2 separate regions of the Homo sapiens genome follow, and region 2 is linked to region 1. The links come from fine-mapping of genetic effects on gene expression. Tissue or cell type: fibroblasts. Region 1 holds a variant in brackets; the other region holds the start of a gene. All regions are shown on one strand. Distances are between the middles of the regions.

What was found. PIP is the estimated chance that this variant, and not a neighbour inherited with it, causes the effect.
Region 2: AMMECR1 starts here. The variant in region 1 is fine-mapped to the expression of AMMECR1 in fibroblasts (GTEx, PIP 0.98).

What each region holds. Positions count from the first base shown.
Region 1 is chrX:110,190,282-110,198,390 of GRCh38, forward strand. It overlaps AMMECR1 (AMMECR nuclear protein 1), which reads right to left. Exons shown (of 6, transcript NM_015365.3): 6 at 3,905-8,109. Among named protein-coding and RNA genes, the nearest start is that of SNORD96B, 31 kb to the right of the region's middle. The variant T/C (reference allele first, on the strand shown) is at 3,042.
Region 2 is chrX:110,314,162-110,322,270 of GRCh38, forward strand. AMMECR1 (AMMECR nuclear protein 1) reads right to left here and starts at 3,924. Exons shown (of 6, transcript NM_015365.3): 1 at 3,438-3,924. The coding sequence starts at 3,910. LOC105373312 (a long non-coding RNA gene) reads left to right here and starts at 4,091. Exons shown (of 4, transcript XR_938504.3): 1 at 4,091-4,287. RefSeq lists silencers at 1,485-1,584, 3,437-3,592, 3,637-3,696, 3,890-4,224, 3,957-4,106 and an enhancer at 3,787-3,916.

The DNA of each region.
Region 1 (8,109 bases):
AGTGGTTTTGATTGTCCTGTGGGATCCTGGGGTTCTGTCGGAACAGCCCCAAGTTTCCATAAACTTTTTTTTTTTTTTTTTTTGAGATGATGGAGTCTTGCTCTGTTGCCCAGGCTGGAGTGTAGTAGCGCAATCTCGGCTCACTGCAACCTCTGCCTCCTGGGTTCAAGCGATTCTCCTGCCTTGGCCTCCTGAGTCGCTGGGATTATAGGCGTGCGCCACCATGCCTGACTAATTTTTGTATTTTTAGTAGAGACAGGGTTTCGCCATGTTGGCCACGTTGGTCTCGAACTCCAGACCTCGGGTGATTTGCCTGCCTGGGCCTCCCAAAGTGCTGGGATTATAGGCGTGAGCCACTGTGCCCGGCCCTCTATGAACATTTAATTCAAAAAATACGTGTGTGTTGAAATACATAATATTTTGAAACTGTGATAATAAAAACAGAAACAAAAAACACTTAACAACACCTGGTAAGTTAGTTATATACAGAATGGCAACTGAAGACCACCAGTGGGTTAGCAGAAGCCATCAGGTTACTTACTTGTCTTCAAACCTCAGGAGTTTTATGCTTCTCCTGCCCGAACTTCTTGTAAGCTTCAGATAGCTGTGGACTGTGCTGGGTTTTTACACTTTAGACCTATATGTACACACTTTCATAAAATTAATCTGATCTCCGTGCAAATCAGGACCTTCTTGTTGTTGTAGAGCTAAAACATAGAAATAGACCGCTGAGACTATTCATTCAACCCAGTTGCAACATTTTATAGTTATCAAAACAACCTCGTTCTCCTTAATAAGTAGCTTGTATACATTTGTGCTTAATAGCGATGAAATAGTTCTTTCAATCTGATTTTTAACATAACGAGGTGCCAACTAAGATTCTGAGTAAAAAACAAAGAGCTTCTCCCACCATGGAGGGAGACTAAAGGGGGAACAAATTACCCGCCCCTTGTGACTTGGATGTGTCCTTTTAGAATGGGAGCATGAGCTCAAAGATGCCATGGCAGTTGGTGAGCACGGAGGCATGTAATTCAGCCACTGCCCAGCTGTGTGCTGCAGACAGAGAGCATACTCTACATCTCACCTCTGTCAAATTAAGTAATCATCTGTCATGATGGAAAGCTGTAAGTGCAGGTCAGTGTTGGTTTACGTATAGCTGCACCCTCCACCGGCTCTCTGGGTGGGTCCATTTAAACAATTTGAGATATATATAGTCAGTACCTTCCAAACATAATACATTAAGAGGTAATTTTTAATTTTTTAATTGATACAAAATTGTACATATTTATGAGCGACACAGTGATGTTTCAATACATACAATGTATAGTGGTCAAATTAGGGTAATTAGCATATGTGTCACTGCAGACATTTATCATTTCTTTATGTTGGGAACATTCAAAATCCTGTCTTCTAGTTATACAAAGATATATCTTAAATTCATAACTATAGACACCCTACAGTGCTATAGAACACCAGAACTTATTCCTCCAGTCTAGTTGTATTTTTCTATCCTTTAACCCAGTGGTCCCCAACCTTTTTGGCACCAGGGACCGGTTTCATGGAAGACAGTTTTTCCACGGATGGGGTGGGTGGCAGTAGATTCTCATAAGCAGCACACAACCTAGATCCCTCACATGTGCAGTTCACAATAGGGTTCATGCTCCTATGAGAATCTAGTCCCACCACTGATCTGACACGAGGTGGAGCTCAGGCGGTAATGCTTGCTTGCCCACTGCTCACTTCCTGCTGTGCAACCCCGTTCCTAACAGGCCACGGACCAGTTCTGGTCCACGGCCCGGGGGTTGGGGATCCCTACTTTAACCAACCTCTCCCTTTTCACTCTCCCAACCCTTCCCAGCTTCTAGTAACCACTATTCTACTCTCCACTTCTATGAGATCAACTTCTTTAGCTCGCACATGAGTGAGAACATGCGGTATTTACCTTCCTGTGTCTGGCTTATTTAACATAATGTCCTCCAAGCTGATCCACGTTGCTGCAAATGACAGGATTTCAATCTTATTTATGGCTGAATAATATCCCATTATATACACAGCAATTTTTATTAAGGGGTCATTTCTAAACAAGGTTGTAACCAAGCGCTTGGGGTGAGGATGTAGATTGGCTTCAGAACAGTGCTTGAGACCTAATGTGATTCCCTCCAATTCTTGAAAGAGTTCTTCCAACAAGTTTGAGGTTTGAACACGAGATTGTCCCATGGGGCTACAGGTGTCAAGGCAGGCCTTTTAATGCAGTAGCCAAAAATAGTATATCCAGGGCTTTCCTCACTTGCATCCTCCCATTCATTTCTTCCTCCTGTAGGTGAAAAGCTTGAGCATACAGATGGGAAGCTATGAGAGCTTACCCAACCCAAACCCATACTTATCTTGGCTTATGTGGTTGAAGCTGCAGGAAGTGGGAGAAGCCATTCTCTGAATGGGCAGTCATTCACTGGCTGTCCTGGCTGGCAGCTCTGAATCCCGGTGTGACTTCTCCACCGCAGACTTCTCCTTACCTCACACTGATAGGACCCCTTAGATAGGGTAGTATTTCCCAGCAACAGAGGGGCACTGCTTCATCCTACACGCCCATACTTGCCCTCGGAAGCAGTAAAGCTATTTACACAGGGTCCAGAGGGGCATGAAATCTAAAGTGGAAATGCTGAAACTCTGGGAAGAATTTAGGTAGGTGGAGTGTGATTACTGAAGTTGAAATTTGTCCAGACCAGAGTTAACCACTAATGCTGTAAAAAAGAATGCTGTGGGCTCATTAAACTACTTCATTCTACCTGAACCTATTAATATGGTCGAAATCATTGAAAAATCTTATGTCCCATTAAACATGAATGATGAAAATAGGTAAAACCTGAGCAGATGGCTGCCTTTATGGAGCACTGGTTAAAACCACAATAGTCCTCTAGGATCTAAGAACACTTTTTAGCCACTGTGATTGACATAAGCACGTGTCATAAAATTTACATGGTTACCAGGGCTTTGGGGCAATGTAACAGAAATTGTCCTGGATATATTCAACTAGCAGCTAA[T/C]CTTGAAATGTGCGTGAGACAGCAAATGTTTTAGAAAGAGCCAGAGGTATTTCCATACACAAGTACAATGTCCTTGGTAGCCTTTCCATAGAGAAAGGGATAAGGCAACAGTAGGCAGAGGCAGCACCCCAAGAGATTCCTTTCTTGACATAGGCTCTTATCTGGCCCTTGAAAGTCAATACCACCAGTTGCCCTACCCTACAATCCAGGTGTTTCCCCCAAGCCCAAGTTGGGGGTACCAATCTGGAACTGGAAAAAATAGCTGGTAATAAGTGTAAGCGTGTGGTATGCCTAGTGTGTGTATGAGTACGTACAAGCTCTGGGTGACCACATCTTGAGCATTTTCAGACTCTGTCCTATACTCAGAAAATGGGCAAGCCTTGATGGTAGGAGAAGGGGTCCCCATATCAGATGATTTAACTGAATAGCACTGCTACTGCCCCTCACCAGCTCACAAAGAGGAAATGCCCAATAACCACTGACTGATTTGGAGCGGACCTAAGCACAGCTAAGCTCCCGCCAGAATTCAAGTCTGATATTTGCCTGAGTTCTGTGGCAAAGGATCTGAAGGATCCTTAAAGGATCAATGTGGCCAGGTTAGGGTGTCCAAATAAAGGCTAATCTATATCAGCAAGCCAGGATTCAGAGATAGACAAAAGGATGACATTGGCAAATCATATGGCAGGGAGTGGCTACAAGCAGGTAAGGTTTCCCAAGTGCTAGTTTGGCAATAAATCAGTATCTGTTCCTAACTATATTCCTTCAGAGCCTTCAACTGTTAACCTTTTAGTAAGAAGTACCGACGAGACCAAGATCCTATGATGAGAGAGGTTAAACTTAAAAAAGAAACATAAAATGATAACTCGGTTTTAACATTTTATTGGGTAAATGATTTTAAAGGTAATAACAATAGTGTCAAAACTACTACAATATCTTTCCACAGCCATACCTTACAGACCCACATAAACCTTCTCATATTTTTTCTTTTTGCTCATATTTAATATTGTAAAGCCATACATGTCATATAAAATGCCCATTTCCAATAGTTTCTTCAAACTATTAAGCAATTAAATGTGGAAGGAAGGAGGGCCTAGTTATACTGGAAGGGGTTTCAGGTAATCTGTGATGTCTTACGGTAATCAAAAAACAGGTTACTAAGAAAGAAGGAAAAGAGGAGCTACTCCAGGTAGCTTTTTGCTCATTACAAGTCTCACCATTGTATCACCAAGAACTCATTATGCTGGTGACAGATTCAAAGTAATTTTGGGGAACATATAAAACACTAAAATAACTTAGAAACTAGATCCAAATATTTCAAAAGTAATCAACTTTGATATACAAAAGTAGTCAGAGGTGGTTACAAAAGTTTGTTTGCTCAGTGCGTCTATGTACCAGCGCAGTTACTGGGTAGAGCAAAATAAAAGGTTCATTTTCTTCTGAAATAGCAATAAAAAACAAGGAAAACATATATTTGTATATAAAGGATCAATGCTGGTCTTAAGAATAATGTCATCAGAAACCCTTAAATCGAGAGGCACACAACGGGTTTCCACTTTTAAAAAATAAAAGGAAAGTCACCAGTTTATTTAAATGGAGGAGGTGCTCACACCCCTCAAATAAACTTAATTCATTTTAACATCACTAGCAAAAATCACTTAGAAACTGTACAAAAATAAAAAAGTTAACACATTTAATCCTGCAAGGTTTTTGTAAGGACTGGAAGGCAGGCTTTTGAAGCAGCATTTGGGCATGGCTGGGGGCTTCTTTGGTTTGATCTAACACACATAAGAGATGGAACCTATTCCAGATGACAGTTTCAAATTTCCTGCACATTTGAAGACAAGATAAGAGGCCAGTATACAAACTTCCGGTGTGCTGGGCACTGGGACTGTATGTGCTGGACTGAAAATCTTACAACTGCTTTAAGCTTTAAGGGTGAGGGGAAGCAAGCCTTGCACTTCCTCCATCAATTTCACTGACCTCTCGTGTTAGGGGAGACTACAGAGGGTAGTAGCACATTCTCGTGCAGTCAGAAGGCCACTTGAGGGGTGGGGGACAATTTGTTCTTTTAGAATCTGGTACCTGGCTGACCTTGTTTAAGAACAAGAAAACCCTTCCAGAAATGGAAGCCTTTTGCTACATACCAAAGCAAAGTACGTACTATTTCCAAGAGGAAAAATACCCAGTTGCATCTGAAAATGGAAAACTTAAATGGAACGAATTAACATTTAAAAGGGGCTATGTAAACTTTGTGCTACTCAAATGAAGTTCAAGTATTACTTCTGAGCTGTTTAAAGATCACTGAACTCATACAATATTCTGATGATAAGAGTGCAATTCACATTTGTGTTTCTGAACAAATAAATCACAACTGGCTAGAACACAACCTGTGCAATCAGAATCTTCGTCTGAGTTAAAGACATGCTACATATTTCAACATGTTCAAAGTTAATTCATACCACATAATTAACAGCTTTGTATATACGACAAAGGTGAAAGGGTCTAGCATTTGTTTGAAGCACACCATTACAGTTTGTATAACACCCTTTACACTACAAAGTCTTTTAGTCAAAAGCTACTTAGAGACAAAAATGCACTTTGCATTACTTGAATACAAAAGGAGACAAAACTATCCTTTTCCCCCAAGCCATGTTGGGAAATATTGCTGACCTCGTCCTTTGAAGCCTGCAGGATGGTTATTTCTTCAGTTTAACGTTATTACACTGCTAAGAAAATCTGTATAACATCTGCATATATCAAGGATTTTAAAAAATCTGATATGATTTTAGAGTCCGCATGACCAGTCACGTGACCTGCTCAAGATTGATTAGCACCGTTAAATAAACACACATATATGTATGTATGTATGTGTAAGTATATGTACACACACACATCTATGTATGTAATAAATCTTTGCTAAAAAAACTTCTAACCATAAGCTCACCCAGGACGAGGAGCCTGTTGAACCGATGAGATGATGGATAAGATGGATTTCACGATAATATTGGTCTATTTTGTCTCTCTTCAGTTTGCTTGTTTTATTTACCTTTTTTTCCTTTTTTTTGTTTTTTGTTTTGTTTTTTTTTTGTTTGTTTTTTTTTGCAGCAGACAATATCATTCAGCTTGTGCTCAGTTTCCCTATAAGGGTAAGAAAAGTTTCCATCAGGTAGCCACTTGTTTTTATACTGAAAGACTAATCTGCTCCAAAATGCTCCCAAGTAGAAATGACAGGACTCAAAATCCCTTTCTAAAGCCCAACAGCTAACTTTTTCTGACTAATCTCTAGCTTCATTGAAACTGGCTACCAAGATTGCATTTCAGGCTAACAATTGGCTTCTTAGTTAAGGCATCACAACTGAAAATGGTTATTTCAACAATGGATGCTGTGGATGAAGGAATACCAACAAACTTCTAAGAACTCTCATCAAAAACTAAAGCAATTTGCTTTGCCCCAGTGGCAGGCAGAAGGAATTTAGCCCATTATCTCACAAACTAGGAAAGGATTTTTGAATTCTGAACTAGCAGTCTGTCACTTGTCACAGTAACTATATGTATAAGCTGTATCATTTTGATATTCAGTGACTTTTTTGTAGTTTTAGAATATATATTCTGCAGCATACTTTAATTCATCACTTGATATGTTGGCTTCCTATTTGAAAAAATTATATATATTTTTCCAAAGACACACAGACACACACACATAACCATAAAATGAAGGTCATCTTCCTCCAGAATAATCTGTCATTTTTCCTGGGGATATATGTATGGACCTCCTATCGACATCAGTAAGTTATCTTTGTATGCATCATGGGAAGACTATACTTGCAGATGAGCTGGGCTCTAACTATAGCATATCTGAATGCCAACTCCATTTTCACAGGTGTGACATAACATCTTATCAATGTAGTAAATGTGTTTCTATCAAAAGTATGTAGTGCAGAAAGAAATTCAAGCTATTTTATAGTATCTCTAAAACTCTAATATTGTCCCCATGACAAACATATCTGAAATCATGGCAAATATGAACTTTTGTTTTACTAAATTATCTTTACCATATCTTTAGATGGTAGCTAAAATGGATTCTAGCCAATCATGACTTATTGAAACCTAGAGCTAACAAATTTAAATTAATATAAAATAGACAAATGTCTCTTATTGGTTATTTGCTCAAAATAATTTTTTTTCAGCTTAAAAAAATACTTAAGAGTAAGGAATTTGTCTAATCTTCTGTTTCACATATAGAAACAATAAAGTTTTACAAGAATATTTTTCTAAATTGCCTTTTTTCTAACCCCTCTTAATTCCACTTAATTATATTCTTCTCAAAGGCACTAAATTCTGTATCTGCTCTCTTCCTAATATTTGCTGCTCATAAAATGTTTCCTGTAGCCTTTTTGAAAGGTAGTTTGTACCTTCTCCAAACAGTGTTTTAGTTTGCAAATTGGTTCTATAAAGTGGTGAGGCAGTCTCTTCTATGATAACCAGCACAATAGGGATAAATGATTTCTCTCTCTCTGTGACAAGCCCTATCACGGACCTTTGAATGCTCACTACTAGAACTAAAGTTCATGTATTTTCACCATGGGAAAAACATATACTTAAGGAGTGAAGACCCAACTACTAGGCTGTCATAGCAAAGTGAATTTCAGACAAAAATCAAGAGTAATATACAAATACCTGAATTTGATATGAATTAATCCCAAACTCAGGTATCAAAAAACAACTATCTTACTGAGGAAAACTAAAGACGAACCTAAGTAAAATCCCTAAAAACTGCACACTTTCTTCCATCCACAGTCAAAGGAAGGGAGGCAGGGAAGGAAGAAGGAAAACGGGAAGGAAGAAGGAAAACAGGAAGCAAAACGGGAAGAAAGGCAAGGAGGACAGAAAAACAGAAACCTGACTGAGACAGCAAAGCAAAATTCTACATAATATTATAAGGAAAAAAAAACCCAAAATTATATATGCTGCAAAAAAAAAATCAACGATCTAAAATAATAAAACAGGATCTTAACAAATGCCATTTTTCTACCCGTTACCATGATGATCTTAGTTGACGATGTCGAAG
Region 2 (8,109 bases), 120 kb after region 1:
AGCTTGTTAAACTGCAGACTCTAATTCAGCAGGTCTGAGGCGGGGCCTGAGAGCCTATATTTGTAATGATTTCCCAGGTGATGTCTTCTGCAGACCACAATGCAAGAGTTTCTCAAATCGGTTGTTTACTGAAATTTAGGGTGCTCATAAAATTCAGATTCCAAGGCACTACCCTAGCCCAAATTATCCAAATCTCAAGAGAAAGATTCAGTAGACTATAACCAGTGGTTCGCCACCTTGGCTGCACATTAAACTCACCTGGTGAGCTTTTACTAATCCTGATTCCCAGGCCCCATCCAAGACCCCATTCAAGTCCAATTAAATTAGAATCTCTGGAGTTGGGGCTCAGGCATCCATATTTTTAATAACTTCCCAGTGATTCCAATGTGCAGCCAAAGTTAAGAATGACTGCTCTGGAGTCTAACTAGCTCAACACCTGGCACAGTGGATCCCTTTATAGTAGCAAACAGGTTCCTATAAAATAGCTATCTGGGCTCCCTACATAAATCCAAGAGTGCTGATTTTGAATATCAAAATGCAGTAAAGTTAAGTTTTCCTCATGTCTTTAACCAGATTTCTGTGCACAAACTTGCCTGTACAATGCTTTCTGCAATTGGGTAGGTAATCAAAACATGGGGGCAACAGTGAAGAATTTGTATCCATACAGCTTGTTCATATATTGACATCCCCTCAATACTGAGTGGAAGGATAACTAACTGATGGATCTACAGCTTCTAAACCCATAAAACGAGGATTTCACCAGTTACAGACATTCTGAGAGAAAAGTCCTGGGAAAGGATGAAAAGAGTGTGCGTTTACGTATGAGAAGTTAAAACTGTCAAAAGCACAACATCTGGTGGGCAGAGACATGACCTGAAACACACTGCTCATGACATGATAATAACTATGAGAAAAAAAAATCCCAATATGTCTGTTTATGTCTTATGGCACTTAGGATAAAGCAACACTAATAAGTACACAATGCTGTTAAATATGTAAAACAGAAAGACAAATGTGTGGTAGTTACTAAGGCACTGTTGAAATGCTTAGTTATGTCCCTCCCATAATCAGGAAGTTTTCCTGAATTTTCCACAGTACACCTCAAAAATGAGTTGAAGATAAATGGAAATAAGACAGTCCATTTTCCACTTAAGTGAACTTTCATTCTCCACTTGGTCATGTTTAGTGTCTACTCTACATTAGTTGTTTTATAGAATACATGACACATTCAAGGTCTGCTAGATGATAATAGTTATTATTCTTCCACCACCGTTTCAACATATCCACAGTGGTCAAAGTGTGTCCTATCATCTGCTTAATTCCATGAAAAAGAAATCCAGGGGCTGGGGTGTTTGAATAGAATAATATCTAAATACGTGTGCAAAGTGGCTACTGTTAAAATGATATTTTCAAAAGCATTTTCTGTATGAACTGGTCAAGCTCACTTTCCTTTTAAAATTCTTGTTATAGTCATTGAGTTAACCCAAACTCACTGTAAAATGTGTGAAAATAGCACCTCCTGAAAGTGTGTTCTCATATGCTTTGGAGCAATGGAGCGTGAATACTAAAGCAGCCTTTGCCAAACTCATGTTAACAGCTCAAGAACTAAACAGGAGTGAATTTTTGCAGTCCCATGACTTTGCAGAGCCAACCTAAGTATCATCCCAGGACTAGCTTTAATACATCACAGACATCCAAGAGAAGGCATAAAAGTCACAAATAAGTGACTCAAGCTAATAAATATTTCATAGATTTATTTTACATGGCAGTCTTTTCAAAATGAATTTTACTTCTTAACCAAAAAAATGAATTGGCTAAATAAAAGTGTGGACTTAGGATTTAAGCTTCTAGAATTAACACTATGAAATTTATAAAGATATTTATTTGACGAAGTGTTCTCCTGGATGCTCTTTCATGCACTTCTCATAAACCAATGCCCAAAGATTAACCAAGTCTAAAAGAAAATGCACAGACCACAGAAGAGTCATACAAAATTAAAGACATTTAAAGAATGAAAGCCAAAGAAAACAAACAGTACAAATGCACAATTTCCAGGACACTTTATTGTAATTTCCACTTTACATATTAATTTAATATTTTAGTCTAGGCAGAAATGTTTATACTTATACAACAGTAGTCCAATCCTCTAATCTCACAAAATGAAAAGGAGCAGTTTTAAAAGAACATCAATTCAGGTATTTATGATATGGGGGACAAGGGGCACTTGTCTTAGCTGGAAAAGGGGCTGATGCCTTTCAGTACGAGTTTCACTGAAATTTTTTCTGTATTATTTTTCTTGTTGATGCTAAGTACTCAAATAAAAGCAATTGCACTTTTTCTCATTCTGCCCTCTCTTGGTCTTTACATTCTGTCTAGCATTTAACGCAAAAAGTCAGTTTACATTCAGTTTACACATTAAAAAAAAAAAACCATATGCCCCACCTCCCACACATCCAAATGGACAGGGATTAGAATTAACCTGGCTTTTAGCTGTAACAGTGCTATTTTAAAATTTTTCAACCACACACTTGAAGGGTAAAATAATTTAAGATACAAAACCAAAGGAAACCATAACAATTCCTACACATTTACTATTTAACTGTTCTCAAATCATCAAGTATAACATGGATTTCTTAAAAAGTGAAATCGACACAAAAGCGAATGCACGCTTAATGTACAAACTGACCGTGGCTCTGTGGGGACAGTTCTCTTTGAATGAGCTATTATCCAGACGGTGGAATGGAAAAAAAAAAAAAAAAGGTCGCACTCTTCAAATGTGAGGAAGCCGGCAGTGCGCTCGCTACACGAGAAACACATTTTAATGGGTGTATTTGGATAAAAATAAGTAGTAAGGGAAAAATGTGTTTTAAGAAACCTCCCCCCTTCCCAGGGCACAAGAAAACCCAGAGGAGAAGATGGGTAACCTCACAAGCTCCAGAGCTAAGTTCCATCACTAACAGAAGTTGGATAGTTGCTATTTTTCATCCTGCAATGGGATAGTAGTTCTCCATGTGCAAGATACGCGGGGCGGGAATACTGGCGGGGCTTTCACTTGGGGTAATGGAAACCAAAGTGAGGAGAGGTCAACACCTTGAGTAACCCAGATCTCCAAAACCGGGGCAGGGTGAGGGGTGGTGGGGGTGGTGAAGGAGACAAGTAAAGGAGTCAAAACTCCTCGAAGTCATCGCAAAGAGAAAGCTAACACCTCTAGGAGCCACGGGGCCATTCCTTGCAGCAGCACCCTGCTCCAAGTGTGGGGTGCCTGCCTCGGAGGGCAAAAAGCGCAGGGTGCCCTTAGTTCAGTTGAGTAGCTCCGGGGACCCGGGCAGCGAGAGGGCAGGGGCATCCGCCGGCCGGGAGGCGGACTCGCACTTTGCCTCAACTCTGAGCCCCATCCCGAGCGCAAGGGAGAGGGCGGCGGAGGGCACGGTACTCACTAGGGCTCGTTGGTGAATCGGGGGGTCCGGGGCTGCTGGTATCCATACAGGTGACAGTAGAGCACATCGAAGCAAAAGCAGCACATCTCTGCTGACACCACCATCTTCCGGGAGCCCGGCGATGAGGACGAGGCGGCGGACGATGAGGAGGGTGAGGAAGAGGTGGCGGCGGCCGGGGTAGAAAGTAGGGTCCCCACTCCGCAGCTCGGAGGTGGCGACAGGGCGATCCCCCCGCCGCCGCCGCCGCAGCCCTGGGGGGGAGAGAGGGTACAGCCGCTGCCGCTACCTCCTCCGGTTAGACCTCCCAGCCCGTTGAGCCGCGTACCGGCGCCTCCTAGTCCCAGCTCCCCAGCTCGGCACTGGCTCTCTCCGCTGCAGTGGGAGGAGGAGGAGGCGCCACCACCGCCACCCGAGCCAGAGGGGGGCGAACTGGACAGTTTCTGCTTCTTCACCCCGCAGCAACCCGCCGCCATCTTGGAACAGTCTCCCCCACGCAGCGTTTCCGACCCATAAGTGAGGCGAGCTGGCGGCGGGGGCGAGCACGCTGCGGCTCAGGCCGCCGGGGGCGCGCCAGAGGCTGGCGGGGCGCGCGCGCGCCGCTCCCGGCCCCGTCTGCCTAGCCACGCGGCTGCCCCGCGCGCGCCCCCGCCTCGGTGCGCGCTCCTCGCTTTCGCGGCTGGGCGCCTCGCGCCTGTCCCGCCCGACTCGTGCCTCTTCTGAGCCGCAGCCCCAGCCCCAGCCCCAATCTCAATCTCTCCGGCCGGCAGAGGTTGGAAGACAGGAAGCCGATTAGAAAGGAAGGTGAAGGAAACAAGAGTCAGACAGCGGAAAGTGGGAGCAAAGGGAGAAGGTGGGCACGCCCGGGAAGGAAGGAGGGAAAGGGAAACTAGTGGGGGTAGGGGGGAAGAAAGGAGAAAGTCCGAAGTAAGCATCCAGGTCCCAAAGCACAGCTCAGTAACCCCCCGCCGCAAGCAGTATTAATGACACTTAAGCCCAGTTACGTGGAACCTGAGCCACCCGGCCTCAAATACACGGGTTTCTGAACTGTTGGAGTGTGAGCGAGCAGGTGCCCAGAGCTCCATACCTGAGACCGCCCCTGTAAAGTGTGTACAAAGCAATCCAGGAAATGGCCACGCTGCTGTCTTTTTAATTCCAGCCTAAGCACACACCAGGGTACTCTTTCCTTTCCTTATGGAGAAATATTCAAGTCCGACTGAATCTATGTATCTTGTACTTGTTCCCCCAACTTACCCTCCTTGCCCCGTTTAAACATTTAAAAGCCAAAAATAAAGTCCTAACTAATACTTCACTGGTTCAAAGATACTAATTGTGCTTTGGGACTTGCAGTGGTGGACTTTTCTGGTTTTGGTTTTTATTTCTTGGCTTGGGTACAAAGCAATTAGGAATATTATCTGTAGTGCTCAGATCTTAGAGATAAATAGGGAAGGTAATGTACTTAGTCACAAATTGAAAGATTTTGTTCAAGTATATAATTAGCTCTTAATATTCATTTTTAAAATTTCTCAATTAAATGCTTGGATGGATGAGGAGACATATGAGTCAGTCCCTTTCTGGGTGCCTAAGTGCAGCTTAATAATAAAAATAATGACAATAATCAAATGTTAAAATTCGTAGAAATGAACGTGATAGAAATAGAAAGCGTAAGTTATTTGCATTGTATCTACACCATGCTAAAACATCTAGATAAAGTCAGGTATCTGCATATTTAAAAACTGCAGATTGATTTTTGTCACCTTTTTTCTACATGCGTGGGATCTTGCAGATAGCTGGGGGCTGTTCATTCCACTCAGGGAATAAAAACAAAACAATTTATTCATTCAGTAATATTGAGCCTCTGCACCATACTATGTGCACAACACTATACTTCTGTTGAAATCCAGGGCGTACTCAGGAAGTATGCCTCCCGCTCTAAAAGAGTTTATGAATTAAGTCAGATACATGCACATAATCAGATAAATAGCTATTATAGTATGTATTGAACACTTTTTAGGTCTCCAATACCATACCTCGTCCTACCCCATAATCCTTCAGAATAAGATACTATCTCGTTTTATCTTCACAACAATGCTCTGAGGTTACTCATTAACAGATGAGGCTATTAAACCTCAGAAGTAATTTGCCCAACATCACACACCTAGAAAGTAACAGAGCTAGGATTGGAATGCTGGCATGTCTGATTCCAAAAACCATGCCATTATACTACATTGCCTCTCACTAACAATATATGATAACAAGGCTAAGGATGGACAAAAGATAGTGACATTACACTCCAGCAGGTGGAACCGAGGTTAAACAGAAATAAGAACTTAGTTTTTATGGAAAGATTGAGAGACACTGAAATATGTTACCAAGGAAAGATGAAAAATCTCCTTCCAAAAAGATTTTATGAGATAGATAGATGAAAATCTGGAATGGTTAGATGCAGCCTAAAGACAAAAGGGATAGTTTAATTGGTCGGTGATATGTAATTTCATCCTCTCAAACTTCATCACTGTTAGAATTAACCTTAAGTATGAAACAAATAACAATTCTTTGTCAATTACTAGTGGAGTAAAAAAATGCATTAATATTTTGTCTATGTTACAGAAGAGAAAGCAGATTGGTTTTTTTAAAAAGCACCACAACAACTGGTATGTTAGGGTGTTTTGTACGTTAGGGTGTTTTGTTTTGTACTTTGTCCTTAACTACCACAGGCTACCTTTTAATTTTTTTGAAACTAGACTGAACATAATATCAGACAATAGGTATCGATTTACTCCCCACCCCACTAAAGTGATCATTTCTAGAGTAAAAAACCAGAGCCATTTAATGACATCACAAAACAGTTTAGCACAGGAAGCAAAGTAGGATACCATGGATGGCTGCTTCTGCTAGGGGAATTTAGGAAAGCAGAATGTAATCTCCCAATTTAGAATTTGGCCAGTAGACAAGAGTCTAACGCCCCTACTCTTGTGAAAAATAGCAAGGAATCTTTAATAAGCACCAGTAGTCATGTCCTTAGTTCTGCATTTCATCTAAAAGACAAAGCACTATCATGGCTATCCTGCCAGGCTAAGGGACTGATGCAATGGGAAAACCCAAAGACAAGGACACCCCAGCTGAATTACAAAAATAGCTTTTCCCTAGAGGATTTTCAATTCCAATTCCAAACCTCACTAGCATAAAGAAAATAGACAAACACAAATGTGATAATTGCAGAAAATACATCATTACCTGACCGCTAGGGGTTATTATCTAAGTACTTTGTTGTATTGGCTGACTAAAAGGGGGAAAAACACTAACCTTTATCTTTGTGTTAACTTCTCCTGAGCCTGGCTCATCTCCCATACTAACCTTGAGCCTCAAGATGCTTTATAAATCGCTTGGCAAGTAGTGGTGATGGTGGTAATGTCTCCTTTAGGCATTTGAGGAAATGCCTCTCCTGGCCTTGTTTTCTTGTAAAGTCACCAGCATAAAAAGAAACATATTTCATTCAAACATAAACTAAATCCACAGAACAAATTCTGTGAAAAAAATTTTTTTACATCTATGCAAAGTGCACACTGGGTGGATAGAAAAACTGACCTTGCTCAGGATTCTCTTGACTTGAAGTATAAAGGTCAAAATATGATAGAGCACATGGTTTCTACCCACTGCTGATACTGGACTGCAGTGATAATACCCTCCAGAGGAAACTTTAAGTTGCCTTCCTCTCTTTGTAACTGACTGTCAATCTGGGAGCTGAAGATTCCACTTAAAAAAAAAAAATAGGCCATAGTCTCTTTGTCAACAAAGCACATTCAAATTGTGAGCATTTTTATTTCTGCAATTTAGAGGCAGCTCTAAATTGCTGTTAACTAACTCCTGTCAAAGGCTTTGTTTTACAACTGTGGAAAAAAATACTTGGACAGAGGTTATGCATATTATTTATTGTGCAGCAAAGCTAGTAATTGAATTAAACCCAATAGTTAGTTAATATATTATCATTGCCTCAATTTGTTCTCGTGTTTACAACATAGTTATTTTTTCATTTCAGAAAATAAGAATAATTATAATTCGATGAGGTGGTGAACTTAATGTTGCAAAATTATTTTCTTAGGTTTCTGGGGTTGTGGGTAAAAGGAGGAACATTCACATATTTCATTGAAAAAAAAACCTGCCATTTATGCCCAAACAAGTGTTATTTTTATCCTCTGTCATCAAACTTTCTCAACTGTCATCCTTGAACAACTGCAGAATGTAATATTCTTAGCTACCACTTTGATCTAACCTTGTACACGTATAACACATGGTTGTTGTGGTGGAGGTGGTAATCAGTTCCCTTTTATATTTGAATGAATACGTGAGTAAATACTGAAATTCTTTACCTACTTTTCAATTCAAATTCGTAAATCAGTTTTTGTTTTTCTGATTACAAAACAGATCCTTCCTTCCAAAATTCTTTCTTTATCTAATGAACACATTTATGAGCAAAAGCACCATGATCTACCTTGGATTGTTTTCTAGTTGTTTCATTTACATCTTCTATTGTCAACTTGAGTACAAACTAATTGAATGTTGTTTTGCTACCTATTTCCTTTAGAGAAAGTTCTATAAACTCCTTAATGAGATTTAGATATGCTAATATCTACTCTGAATGTGGAAGAATTAATAAAGCTAGCTAGTTGTAGAT